Linked DNA regions of Homo sapiens. The protein of the gene in region 2 interacts with the protein of the main gene of each other region in a pairwise test. Each region holds a gene or a part of one and is shown on either strand. Other genes may lie near its edges. The genes, in order: ZNF343, RAD51D, POLDIP3 and MEOX2.

Evidence for each region.
Region 1: the proteins of RAD51D (region 2) and ZNF343 interact in binary tests that used the Homo sapiens proteins (3 or more experiments, as listed by UniProt).
Region 3: the proteins of RAD51D (region 2) and POLDIP3 interact in a two-hybrid assay, tested with the Homo sapiens proteins (one large-scale study listed by BioGRID).
Region 4: the proteins of RAD51D (region 2) and MEOX2 interact in a two-hybrid assay, tested with the Homo sapiens proteins (one large-scale study listed by BioGRID).

What each region holds. Positions count from the first base shown.
Region 1 is NC_000020.11:2,502,336-2,505,939, forward strand, and holds part of ZNF343 (zinc finger protein 343), read right to left. Parts: intron 1-3,604. UniProt on the Homo sapiens protein: May be involved in transcriptional regulation.
Region 2 is NC_000017.11:35,099,284-35,102,887, forward strand, and holds part of RAD51D (DNA repair protein RAD51 homolog 4), read right to left. Parts: intron 2,083-3,604; coding exon 1,918-2,082; intron 1,754-1,917; coding exon 1,670-1,753; 3' UTR 1-1,669. UniProt on the Homo sapiens protein: Involved in the homologous recombination repair (HRR) pathway of double-stranded DNA breaks arising during DNA replication or induced by DNA-damaging agents. Bind to single-stranded DNA (ssDNA) and has DNA-dependent ATPase activity.
Region 3 is NC_000022.11:42,601,322-42,604,925, forward strand, and holds part of POLDIP3 (polymerase delta-interacting protein 3), read right to left. Parts: intron 1,840-3,604; coding exon 1,449-1,839; intron 787-1,448; coding exon of another isoform or gene 736-786; coding exon 649-735; intron 1-648. UniProt on the Homo sapiens protein: Is involved in regulation of translation. Is preferentially associated with CBC-bound spliced mRNA-protein complexes during the pioneer round of mRNA translation. Contributes to enhanced translational efficiency of spliced over nonspliced mRNAs.
Region 4 is NC_000007.14:15,676,655-15,680,258, forward strand, and holds part of MEOX2 (homeobox protein MOX-2), read right to left. Parts: exon of another isoform or gene 2,260-3,604; intron 994-2,259; exon of another isoform or gene 809-993; intron 1-808. UniProt on the Homo sapiens protein: Mesodermal transcription factor that plays a key role in somitogenesis and somitogenesis and limb muscle differentiation. Required during limb development for normal appendicular muscle formation and for the normal regulation of myogenic genes.

The DNA.
Region 1 (3,604 bases), on a different chromosome or scaffold from region 2:
TTGGTGTATCTGAAAGTGATGGGGAGAATGGAACCAAGTTGGAAAACACTCTGCAGGATATTATCCAGGAGAACTTCCCCAACCTAGCAAGGCAGGCCAACACTGAAATTCAGGAAATACAGAGAACGCCACAAAGATACTCCTCGAGAAGAGCAACTCCAAGACACATAATTGTCAGATTCACCAAAGTTGAAATGAAGGAAAAAATGTTAAGGGCAGCCAGAGAGAAAGGTCGGGTTACCCACAAAGGGAAGCCCATCAGACTAACAGCTGATCTCTCGGCAGAAACTCTACAAGCCAGAAGAGAGTGGGGGCCAATATTCAACATTCTTAAAGAAAAGAATTTTCAACCCAGAATTTCATATCCAGCCAAACTAAGCTTCGTAAGTGAAGGAGAAATAAAATAATTTACAGACAAGCAAATGCTGAGAGATTTGGTCACCACCAGGCCTGCCCTAAAAGACCTCCTGAAGGAAGCACTAAACATGGAAAGGAACAACCGGTACCAGCCACCTCAAAAACATGCCAAATTGTAAAGACCATTGAGGCTAGGAAGAAACTGCATCAACTAACGAGCAAAATAACCAGCTAACATCATAATGACAGGATCAAATTAACACATAACCATATTAACCTTAAATGTAAATGGGCTAAATGCTCCAATTAAAAGACACAGACTGGCAAACTGGATAAAGAGTCAAGACCCATCAGTGTGCTGTATTCAGGAAACCTATCTCACATGTAGTGACATACATAGGCTCAAAATAAATGGATGGAGGAAGATCTACCAAGCAAATGGAAAACAAAAAAAGATAGGTGTTGCAATCCTAGTCTCTGATAAAACAGACTTTAAACCAACAAAGATCAAAAGAGACAAGACCATTACATAATGGTAAATGGATCAATTCAACAAAAAGAGCTAACTATCCTAAATATATATGCACCCAACACAGGAGTACCCAGATTCATAAAGCAAGTCCTTAGAGACCTAGAAAGAGACTTAGACTCCCACACAATAATAATGGGAGACTTTAACACCCCACTATCAATATTAGACAGATCAACAAGACAGAAAGTTAACAAGGATATCCAGGAATTGAACTCAGCTCTGCACCAAGCAGACCTAATAGACATCTACAGAACTCTCTACCCCAAATCAACAGAATATACATTCTTCTCAGCACCACACCGCACTTATTCCAAAATTGACCACATAGTTGGAAGTAAAGCACTCCTCAGCAAATGTAAAAGAACAGAAATTATAACAAACTGTCTCTCAGACCACAGTGCAATCAAACTAGAACTCAGGATTAAGAAACTCACTCAAAACCGCTCAACTACATGGAAACTGAACAACCTGCTCCTGAGTGACTACTGGGTACATAATGAAATGAAGGCAGAAATAAAGATGTTCTTTGAAACCAACGAGAACAAAGACACAACATAACAGAATCTCTGTGACACATTCAAAGCAGTGTGTAGAGGGAAATTTATAGCACTAAATGCCCACAAGAGAAAGCAGGAAAAATCTAAAACTGACACCCTAACATCACAATTAAAAGAACTAGAGAAGCAAGAGCAAACACATTCAAAAGCTAGCAGAAGGCAAGAAATAACTAAGATCAGAGCAGAACTGACGGAAATAGAGACACAAAAAAACCTTCAAAAAAATCAGTGAATCCAGGAGCTGGTTTTTTGAAAAGATCAACAAAATTGATAGACCGCTAGCAAGACTAATAAAGAAGAAAAGAGAGAAGAATCAAATAGACGCAATAAAAAATGATAAAGGGGATATCACCACTGATCCCATAGAAATACAAACTACCGTCAGAGAATACTATAAACACCTCTACGCAAATAAACTAGAAAATCTAGAAGAAATGGATAAATTCCTGGACACATACACCCTCCCAAGACTAAACCAGGAAGAAGTTGAATCTCTGAATAGACTCTGAAATTGAGGCAATAATTAATAGCTTACCAACCAAAAAAAGTCCAAGACCAGATGGATTCACAGCCGAATTCTACCTGAGGTGCAAGGAGGAGCTGGTACCATTCCTTCTGAAACTATTCCAAGCAATAGAAAAAGAAGGAATCCTCCCTAACTCATTTTATGAGGCCAGCATCATCCTGATACCAAAGCCTGGCAGAGACACAACAACAACATAAAATTTTAGACCCAATATCCCTGATGAACATCGATGCAAAAATCCTCAATAAAATATTGGCAAACCAAATCCAGCGGCACATCAAAAAGCTTATCCACCATGATCAAGTGGTCTTCATCCCTGGGATGCAAGGCTGGTTCAACATATGCAAATCAATAAACATAATCCAGCATATAAACAGAACCAACGACAAAAACCATATGATTATCTCAATAGATTCAGAAAAGGCCTTTGACAAAATTCAACAACCCTTCATGCTAAAAACTCTCAATAAATGAGGTATTGATGGGACATATCTCAAAATAATAAGAGCTATCAATGACAAACCCACAGCCAATATCATACTGAATGGGCAAAAACTGGAAGCATTCCCTTTGAAAACTGGCACAAGACAGGGATGCCCTCTCTCACCACTCCTATTCAACATAATTGTTGGAAGTTCTGGACAGGGCAATCAGGCAGGAGAAGGAAATAAAGGGTATTCAGTTAGGAAAAGAGGAAGTCAAATTGTCCCTGTTTGCAGACGACAAGCTTGTATATCTAGAAAAGCCCATTGTCTCAGCCCAAAATCTCCTTAAGCTGATAGGCAACTTCAGCAAAGTCTCAGGATACAAAATCAATGTGCAACAATCACAAGCATTCTTATACACCAATAACAGACAAACAGAGCGCCAAATCATGAGTGAACTCCCATTCACAATTGCTTCAAAGAGAATAAAATACCTAGGAATCCAACTTACAAGGGACGTGAAGGACCTCTTCAAGGAGAACTACAAACCACTGCTCAATGAAAGAGGATACAAACAAATGGAAGAACATTCCATGCTCATGGGTAGGAAGAATCAATATTGTGAAAATGGCCATACTGCCCAAGGTAATTTATAGATTCAGTGCCATCCCCATCAAGCTACCAATGACATTCTTCACTGAATTGGAAAAAACTACTTCAAAGTTCATATGGAACCAAAAAACAGCCCTAAGTCAATCCTAAGCAAAAAGAACAAAGCTGGAGGCATCACGCTACCTGACTTCAAACTATACTACGAGGCTACAGTAACCAAAACAGCATGGTACTGGTACCAAAACAGAGATATAGATCAATGGAACAAAACAGAGCCCTCAGAAATAATGCCGCATATCTACAACCATCTGATCTTTGACAAACCTGACAAAAACAAGAAATGGGGAAAGGATTCCCTATTTAATAAATGGTGCTGGGAAAACTGGCTAGCCATATGTAGAAAGCTGAAACTGGATCCCTTCCTTACACCTTATACAAAAATTAATTCAAGATGGATTAAAGACTTAAATGTTAGACCTAAAACCATAAAAACCCTAGAAGAAAAACTAGACAATACCATTCAGGACATAGGCATGGGCAAGGACTTCATGTCTAAAACACCAAAAGCAATGGCAACAAAAGCCAAAATTGACAA
Region 2 (3,604 bases):
GTGGCCCCCTGGAGTGCTATATTGAGAAAAACTTCTAAAAACACTTTGACTTCCACAAAAAAGAGTGCTTGTGCCCGATTGGTCATGTCTGCTGTGGGCTGAAGATGCCCAAATAGTACCTTGAGTGGCAAGAATTTGCAATTTCCAGCTTCATGTATTGCATCTTACTGTGGTTGCAGGAATGTGCCAATCACCCATGGTATAAAGATACTGAAGATTAATTTCTCCTGAGGTCTTCTGTGAAAGCAAGCGCTAGGATTCCCCCAGGCTTAGGCTTACCAACCCTGTCCTGAATCCAACACCCTGGTGCCAGTTTGCCACTCCTTCCCAATCCTCCATGATTCTATCCCTGTTGCATTCATCACCTCTAAATGTCATTACTTTCTGAGTGTAACTCGGACCCTCCTTTCCTGCAGCCAAGACATAACTGATTAATTACACAACAGGCTCTCTAACCAAGAAAGATGACCTTCCTTTAAAAGATGTGGCCAGTAACCAATCCTGATCATTTCTGTACTTTTCCTTTTATTTTCCATTCCCTGGTGTCTTCGTCCCCTCCCAGCCAGGGTCATGGCTCTCAGACGGATGGCCACAGTGCTGGTGAAAGACAGAGGGATTATTTCATACACTAGGGCACTAGCTGTGGTACAGCTGGCAGGAAGAGAGGTGTAATTATATTGCATCTTGGAGCCACCAGCAATGAATTTCTGCATAAAGGACTAGATTTGCCATGTATTATTTACGTCAGCATCAATTTTCCCAGCTGGCTCTATTTACTGTGCAAATTCTCCTCTGTCTGTTTATGGGCAAGGCCATGGTTCAGCACCTCTGGTTATGCTGTACTGTGGAGGGGCCCCACAGGGCACCATGCATATTAAATGAGTGGCTGGATTCACCAGGAGCAGGTCATACCCTCCCTTTCTGTTAAATTATATCCCTGGAACTGCAGCGAGCCCACACGTTCTCACCTAGTCATGGTGATGCAGGCAGGTCTGAAACCAAATCAGCAAGAGGAAAGGAGGAATAAACTGTTCTTTGGGCCTCACTGGGGGAAACTGAAAAACAGCCTTCTAAGGGGAAATCAGGTGGCTCTAGGGCTCGGGGAATTGCCTTTTTATATTTTTAAGAGCAAAACAGAGATGAAGAAGAGTATTTCATTTATAAGCTTATTTCCACCCAGTAACTCAGAGACAGAGCTAAGGAAGAGTGGGCCCCCATCTAACAAATGGAAAGGCAGAGACAAAAGAAAAAAAAGGCAGCAGCAGCAAAGGCAAGTTAGAGGCTTTCCCGGCTTGGCCACTGCGCTAGGAGGGAGCACAGGACACAATGGTGATGCACAGGATTATCCATCCAGTCGCCAGCATGCCTCATCAGAGATGCTCCCAGCCAGGGTGAACTTGGTTTCCACCAGAAACATACACGTTAGAAATAAGGGAAGGAAACGTGGCACCAGTATGAATTTCTGGGTCCTCGCAATGCAGCATCCTCTTTCGCCTGTGGTTTATATGCTTACAGAGAGTGAGGCCAAGGAACCCAAGATGTCTCTTCTGGCCAGCCTGAGAACGTCTGTAGTCACCAGTGCCAGGTGGCAGTAAACAGCAGGCGTTACTGGGAAGAAAAGTTGGGAGGGGTCCCCAATGCTTCCCTGTTTCCCAAACAACAGCACAGGTCATGTCTGATCACCCTGTAATGTGGCACTCTGCTCTGAGGTCCCCCAGGTCCCAATGTCTACCATCTCCTGGAAACCTGTTGGCTGGAAGAAGAAGTAAGGAGTCAGTGGAGTTAAGCAACCCAAGTGGGTAGCTTCTTTAGTTGCAAGGTTTCAGCCTCTAAAGAGTTCTTCTCGAAGACATCTGTGGGTATGGAAACCACCCTCCAGGGCCCAAGATTACTGGCATCTTCCTGGGGCTGGCTCACCTGTCGGGAAGATTTGGCCAGACACGCCATGCGCCGGCCGCCTGATGCTCCTGCTCCCTCGATGGTGTCCAGGAGAATCCGAGTGCTGGGCACAAAGCTCCAGGAGCGTCCGAGGGCAGGTTTGAGCCTCCCGCTGTCCCTGTCTCGAGTTATGTGGTTGGTCACCTGCAGCAGAAACAGACTTACAGATCCATAATGCTAGTATAGAGGACATCGATTACTACCGCTTCATTTTACGGAGAGGAAAACAGAGGCCTAGCACAGAGAAATAACTTCCCCAAGGTTACAAAACCTAATGGCAGGTCTGGAACTAGAACCTGGGCCTCCTGACTTGTGCCCCGCTCTTTCCACTAAATCTCGATGCCTCAGGTTTGACCCGAACCAGAAGGCGATGGGGCACATGTCACCATGCTTTCCAGGCTGGTCTCAAACTCTTGAGCTCATGCAGTCCGCCAGCCTCAGCCTCCCAAAGTGCTGGGATTACAAGTGTGGGCCACCACGCCCAGACACTCAGCCTTTAAAAGGAAGGAAAGTCTGACACATGCTACAAGGTGGATGAACCTTCTGGACATTATGCTAAGTGAAATACTCCAGTCACAAAAAGTAAATACCATATGATTCCATGTATATGAGGTTCCTAGAGTAGTCAAAAAGCATAGATACAGAAAGTAGAATGGTGGTTGTCAGGGGCTGGGGAAGGGGAAAATGAGTTATTTTTAATGGGTACAGAGTTTCAGTTTTACAAGGTGAAGAGTTATAGAGATGGATGGTGGTGATGGTTGTACAGCGTTATGAATGTATTTAACACCACCGAACTGTATACCTTAAAGTGGTTAAGATAGTAAATTTTATGTTACATGTATTTTACCACAATAAAAGAAACTGGAAAAAATATATAGCTGCTAAAAATTACATTTCTAAAAAATCTATTTTAAAACATAGGAAATGGACTCAGATGGTATTTTTTATGTTGTTGTTTTGGTTTGTTTGTTTTTGAGATGAGGTTTTGCTCTGTTGCCCAGGCTGGAGTGCAGTGGCATGATCACAGCTCACTGCAGCCTCGATCTCCCAGGCTCAAGCAATTCTCCTGCCACCAAGGCCACCTAGTTTTTGTATTTTTTGTAGAGGTGGGGTTTTGCCATGTTGCCCAGGCTAGTCTCGAACTCCTGGGCTCAAGTGATCCACCAGCCTTGGCTTCTCAAAGTGCTGGGATTACACGCATAAACCAGCGCACCTGGCCTATTTTTTTTTATTTTTTCATGAGGTTAGTTTAGTTAGAAAGCTGGTTAAGTGTGGGCTCACACCTGTAATACCAACACTTTGGGAGGCTGAGGCGGGTGGATTGCTTGAGCCTGGAAGGTCGAGCTGCAGTGAGCTGTGATTGTGCCCCTGCACTCCAGCCTGGGAAACAGAGCGAAACCCTATCTCAAAAGAAAAAAAAAAGAAAGAAAGAAAGTTGGCTAAAAGTATAAGTAAATATGCAGAAAAAGTATTGTATGGAGATATGTAAAAATATTAATATGGTTTCTGTGGATGTGGAGATTGATGACAAATTTGAATCATATTTATTTTCTATCCTTTCTATGAGAAGCATGCAGACTTTAAAAAAACTACCTCATAAGCAGAAAAAGTTACTTCAATAGCAAAAAGATCCATTTATATGAAGCTCTGGAAAAGGCCAAACTAT
Region 3 (3,604 bases), on a different chromosome or scaffold from region 2:
GGGCAATATAGCGAGACCCCGTTCTCCAGAAAAAGGAAAAAAAAACAAAACAAAAGACAAAAAAAAAAAAAGCGTAAAAAAATTAAAAAAAACAAACAAAACTTTTTTTAGCCTCTCTGCCCCCTATGCCTCCCTTCCTCTATTAAGAAGTTTCTTCTTGGCTGGGTGTGGTGGCTCACGCCTGTAATCCCAGCACTTTGGGAGGCTGAGGCGGGGGGATCACAAGGTCAAGAAATTGAGACCATCCTAGCCAACATGGTGAAACCCCATCTCTACTAAAAATACAAAAATTAGCTGGGTGTGGTGGTACGCGCCTGTAGTCCCAGATACTCAGGAGGCTGAGGCAGGAGAATCACTTGAACCCGGGAGGCAGAGGTTGCAGTGAGCCGAGATTACGCCACTGCACTCCAGCCTAGCGACAGAGCGAGACTCCGTCTCAAAAAATAAAAAAATAAAAAAAATTTCTTCTTTAAACTCAAATTGCAAAAAGTTCGCTGTAACCCTGCCTCCAATACTACCAACTGGGAACTACCAACTGAGCAAGCCTCAGTCCATCCACCCAAGTAGGCCTCATCAAAACACGTGCACACCTACATGTTCGCTATGTACACACAGATTCTCTCTCTCTCTCTCACTCACTCACTCTACCTGTTTGGCCTGGTGGTTATTGACAACATTGATTCTCATTCCGGCAGGATGGGGATGAAGTGGTGCCATGGCTTTCTGCTGTGGAACCTGGAAACACTCAGTGGTCAGAATCCACCCCACAGGGTCCACATGCATTCTCTAGAAGAAGGGGGTTACTGAACTTGATACATGGTGGGCATGCAGCTTTGGTCTTTGGTAAAAGGCACTACAGAGGGCCTTATCCTCCACAGTAGGAAGTAACAGAAGAATCATCAATCCAGAGACCATGCCGGTAACGCACATGTAGGGCTTAATGGACTTGGCTCAGTAAATGTTTGCTGTGGCCGCTGCTGTTCCTATTACCAAAGCTGCTATGAAGGTTAAATGACATTGTTTCCTTTCCCTCTGTGGTGGCAGCTGTGAAGGGTGGCCAGGGCCTTGGACTAGGGGCCAAATCCCACTGGGCCTGGGGGTGGAGTGAGGACTGTAAGGTCACAGATATTAAGGGCCTGCCACATAGCATGTGCTCAATAAATCTTTTGTCCTTTCCTCTCTCTTTCTTCCACCAGTATCTCACCTGGGAAAGTCACCAAATTTCTATGGGCCTCCTTTTTCTTTTTTTTTAGAACTGAGATAATACCTTTCCTTCCTTGTATAGTTCCTTGGCTATAACGTACTTAAAGCCTCTGTAAGGAGCAAAGTCTGTATTATGCCAACACTTGAGAGGATAGTATTTTTGCCCAGTCACTCCTGGCACCTTGCCTCTAAATCTACCTTTGTTACTAGCTTTCTGGGAATTCATGACAAAAGCCACAACTCACCTGGATGGTTTTGGTGAGCTTCAGAGCAGGGGTCACTGTCCCAATGGGTGGGTTTATGAAGGCAGCAGGGGAACTCCTCTTCAAGCTGATCTTCTCCCGGGCATCAGCAACCTGGCGGGGCTTCTGGGGCACCGTGGTCTGCTGCTTGCGAGAGTTCAACATCTCTCTGGCATCCTGCACTTTCCCTTTGATTCGAAATCGGGCATCTTTCTGCAAAAGCTTCTCCCGGGCATCCTTGACTCCCAGTTTGAGCCGGGCATCTGAGAGGCCAATCTTCTGCCGGGCATCAAATCTCTGCTGGAAGGTGGCTGTGCGTGTTGACTGGCTGAGAAGGCCTTGCTGGATCCCAACTCGAGATCGGACACCTCCAACTCCCGGTCTGGCATTAAGCCTGTAAATATAAATTGCAATCAATATTAAGTGGATCTGGGTATCTACAGCAGTCTATGAAAGCGGAACTGTGGTAACACTGGGGACAGAGGAGGCCCTGGAGAATCAGAAAGCGGCTCCTTGCCTGTGATTGAATAAACGATTATGCCTACATGATGACTCCTTTCCTGGTTTCATGATGGCTTTTAACTTTGCATTTTAAGCAAAATTAAGAGAGAGGGGCTGGCAAGTTTTATTCCTAGTTAAGAGTGTTTTGCTTCCTAGACCACGTGTCTTGAGACACCAACATGGACAATAACTTCCCAACAATGCCAGTCAAATAAAATAAACATCCACCAAATCTAATCCCACTCATCTGAGGAGTAACTTTAGTTTCCAAGGCCCATCCCCATCCATGTTCTCACTCAGCCCTCTCAGCACCCTGAGAAGTACTTACTATGCCCACTTTACAGTGGGAGAAGCAGGTTTGGAGAGGCTCAATGATTAACAAAGAGTGTCTCTAAGGAAGGCAGACACCATCTACTGGGCTAAGACCAAGAGAGCAAACATATGGGTCTGGCTTAGAGCTAGAGGAAAACAGAAAACACAAAGACTTGGTAGGAAAGAAAGAAAAAATTGCAATAGCAAAAATATCAAATACAGAAACCACTGAAATTGGAAATGATCGGGTACAGGGTTCGCTATTTGGGTAATGGGTACACTAGAAACCTAATCCTCACCAGTATGCAATATAATCCATGGAACAAACATGTACATGTACCCCCTGAATTTAAAATAAAATATTTTTTTTAACTGGAAATGAATGAAACTCCATAAACAGGCCCCGGTCTCTTTCTTGGGTTCCTCTGTTGGCCTACAGTGGCTTGAAAGTGAACAGAAGGCCCTCCTGAGTATAGCGCTGGAGATCCTCCCCAAGGTCTTTGGGCTTCTTCTGTCGCCTCCCACCCTCAGGCCTCTCTACAATAGCTACCCTCAACGGCCACTCATGCGGCAGACGCTCTGCCTGCGGACTCCTATGTCAAGGGGTGCTCTTTGGGAAACCCTCCCGGATTTCTCCAGGCCAACTCTCCTCTGTGCCTATTATTATACCTGCTTGTTTCCTTTTTTCTCTCCCTACCCTGGGTGGGGCGGGGGGAGGAGAATGGGGTTCAGTCCTTTTGCAGGGCCCAGCACCTCCTAAGCAGCATCGAGCCCTGGCTGAGTGTCAGAAACTCCTGTGGAGCTTCTTAAATACAGAGCTGTCCAGATCCCACCCTAGATGCTGAATCCAAAATCTGGGGCGAGGCCTGGCCATCTGCATTTTTAACTCCATGGGTGATTCTGGAGAAGAGCCATGTTGAGGATCTCTGACCTGCTGTTAGAGGGTAAACTCTGCTGCATAAACGAGTTCCTGTATTGCCTCCCACTTCACTGCCTGGACCTCCCAGGAGGCATCTCTCATACTGGGTCAGTCACTGGCACTCTCCCACTGCTGCATTCCAGTGGCTGGAGTGAGATTGGCTGTCAGTTCCTCTGCTAATGAATACCAGAAGTGCAGCCAAAGGTGAGTCTACCTGGTACCAATAAAAGCAAACGTGGACCTTCATCTTGTTATCCCTCAAATAATGGAAAAACACCTGCTGCCTCCAATATGCCAGTACCAAACCTAAGGCGGTAATACAGACTGAACATCTGTGTCCCCCCAAAATTCCTCTGTTGAAGCCTAATCTGCAATGTGATGGTGGTAGAAGGTGGTGGCCTTTGGGAAGTGATTAAGTCATGAGGAC
Region 4 (3,604 bases), on a different chromosome or scaffold from region 2:
GAGGTAGGTAGTTCGAGACCAGCCTGGCCAACATGGTGAAACCGCGTCTCTACTAAAAATATAAAAATTAGCGGGCGCCTGTAGTCCCAGCTACTCAGGAGGCTGAGGCAGGAGAATCACTTGAACCCGGACAGCAGAGGTTGCAGTGAGTCAAGATTGCGCCACTGCACTCCAGCCTGGGCAACAGAACAAAACTCGGTCTCAAAAAAAAAAAAAGAGTCCTCATTTTATTCTTTATTTTGCTCAATATGCACTCTTCCTGAAAACAGCTTTTCAATGGAGAAGTAGCAGGAGACCCAAGAGAAGAGGAAGTTAGGAGAGGTCCAAGTAAAAGAGGCTGTGGAATGGAAATCTTAAGGGTGGGAAAGGCAACTTGAGCCTCTTACATAACTTGGCTAGAATTCACCTTACATTTCAGGGAAATTTCATGCCGTTTACAATTCTAAGGACAATGATTATTTTAAATCTTTAGTAATTACTTAGGCAAGTTACATTTCCTATAGCAGTATTTGTAATAAAATGCAAACAGGTAGCATAAAATAGATTATTTTCAGATGGTGCATATGCATTACATAATTGTACATTCATTGATAGATGATAAAAATAATAACTGACACTTTACTAAGCCAGACATTGTTCTAATTGCTTTGTGTATATTAACTCAATTTCCTTTTCAGAAACGATGGTAGAGAAAAGTTAAATTTGTGGCCAAGAGGTGACAATAGTAAGAGACACAGCGGGGGTTTAGCCCTAACTATTGTGTTCTCCCAGATATGCTTGCCTCATTTCTTCTTCGGTTGACTCTTAGGGTTGCATCCACCTAACCCTCCGGGGTTCTGGCTTCGGATAGTGTTTGATCAATGGAAGCAACAAAAGAAGATTGGAGGACATGAAGACAGGTTACTGGATGATATTCGACATGAGCTGCAATCCTCCATCTGAGGTCCCAACTTTTCCAGAAGGCTTCTGTCCTGTTGCGCTCATTGGATTCTGGTAAGAGGTCCCTGCATTTACCCTCTCAGGTTAGGGGTGCTAATATATTCCAACTGTGGACAGACCCTGGGGGATTCATCATTTCCTGTGGTTTCCCTACATTCTACTCACCATCAAATTGCCATCATCAAACTCTCTTCAATTATCCCTTTGAGTGTGACATCTATTTCCTTGTCTAATATGATAATTAAGAAATAGGATAAATCTTTTATGATTTATCAACTAATGGCTAAATATGCAAAAGTGTTGCCACTTACTTATACTTTCCTAAACATCTGGGTATTCTAGAAAATAAATTATACAGCTCTACTTCCAGGAGCAAAGAATAGTTCTGGAGGAAAAATTATTTATAATTCCCTGAATTTTGAGTGTGGACATTCACAAGACTGTAATCTTAGAAACATGGGTGGCAGCAAGCCTCCAAATAGGGATGCCTAAACTCTGACTTTCCTGTCATTTTAATATGTCTCAATCATTTTTACATCTACATTCTGTCTAGTTTAATGCATCCAGATCTGTTTATACTTCAAATAAGAAAAAGAAATTCCCACGTAAGCATAGCCTATAGGTGAGAAAATTTTAATTGTTAAAGGCACTACACATACTAAGACCTCATTTTATCTTTGAATAATATTAAATAAGACATCACTTGATTCCAACCTATGCAGTGAGTGCTAAAGCATTATTTATATGGTTCTTTAAATGTGAAAGTTATTTGCTAAATTGCTGTTGTTCTACAAAACCAAGCTAGTCCCCATTACGTTTCGGATAACACATATTTATTTTTCTGAATAGTTTCCTGTTTGTGTTACCTACCAACATAAATCAATGATTTGCAAAATTTGCTTTGCATTCATTGTTAATTTGATAAGAGGCATGCCCATTTAATCTTTTCAACTAATAAGAATACACCTCAGTTTAGTTTGCTAGTTTTTTGGGTGGCTAAGAATAACCATCCAAATGTTTACTGTGCAGTCCAGACAGTGGACAAGCTACCTCAACAGACTCTGAATATATTTCACTACTGCATTTGCAAATAACTATCACTTTGCAAAAATAAGTTTTCATTTGGGTGTCATTTCTGGCAAAAATTTAAGGCTATATTTTCAAAGAGTAAAATTCTAGGCCTTTAAAATTCTACTGGCATCTGCCAACCTAAGCTGGACCCTCCTCTAGGTTTTGCGGAGCCTGACAGATGATTTCACCTTAGTCATTTTCTTGCCCACAGTCACGTAAGATAACTGCGAATTTGTTTTTTCCTTGTAGCATTATGGGATTCTCTTGAAGTGTGTGAAGAATAATGAGCTAAATAAAGAGGAAAAACAAAAGAAAACAAAAACTGCAGGGACTTTTATAACTATCATTGATTGCCAGCTTAAGCCTGCTGGACTCTTCACAAAACTATATATGCTTCAAGCTTAATATTTAATTTTGTAATTGGAACATTTATAATCATATTATGCATTTAATAAGGATGCTCTAATTCAGATTTACTATTATCAGGAAATTAAATTTGGAGTTACAGTAATGCATGCATATATATGTGTGGGTGTGAGTGTGCATATACCTATATATGTATATACATATATAAAGTAAACGCCTTCTTTTAACGTGTGTTTTAAGTATAGCTTCCATGTCCTAGTTAATTCAGCACCCTCCCTTTTATCCTTTCCTTGCCATTGTCCTCTCTACTAGACTACAATAAAAACAAAAAACTATGAAAGTAAGCAGCTTATAATCATAATTTTAATCAATGTAGCCTATGCAAGCTTTAAGAAACATACGTCTAACATCTTAGAAAGAAAGCTTATGAACACAAACAGCAGAATACTTAAATACATTTGAAACATTCACATTGAATTGATTCTACAAAATTTTGAAGAGCAACAGCTTTTGAATTTAGAGCTATAATCAGTACCCTAAAGTTTTTACCACTGAGTTACTACCTAGTAAAAATATGTTATATTTGCAATAAAAGTACACATTGTAAGGACATAAGAATTGTCATCAAGGTACACAAACATTTTAGAATTATTAAACATTTAAATAAATGGAAATTTTAAAAATAAAATAACAATATTATCATACAAGTTAATGATCCAGTTTATTAATTTCTAATTCTATTGATAAAACAAGGGATTATTTTTGAAAGGGTTTTTCTATCTTTCATACAAACCCTTTCCAAAAATGTATAGATACAGTACGGATTCTACCTGATCATTCTTGTGCATATGGTGATGTAAGAAACCAAAAAAATGTAAATTATTTTCATAACACTGTGAAAACCAATATTTAAAAATACAGTGCACAATTAGTAGTGAGTAACATATATAAATTTAGAAATATTATATTTCTGTACACAAAGTAACATTATAAATGAAAGCTTCAGGAATAATGAGCTACTTATTATTCCGGAAATTATATATCAAAAATTTCAAATATAGAGGAAAATTAAAAACCCACTCATGACCCATGAAAATTAATAACCCATTCGATCATACACTTACCATGTAACTTTCTGTTAATTTGGTAATAAATAATGTCAAGAGATTTTAAATGAAAATACTTATTCTGAAACATAAAAACAACATCTGAGATGAGCACAAATGGA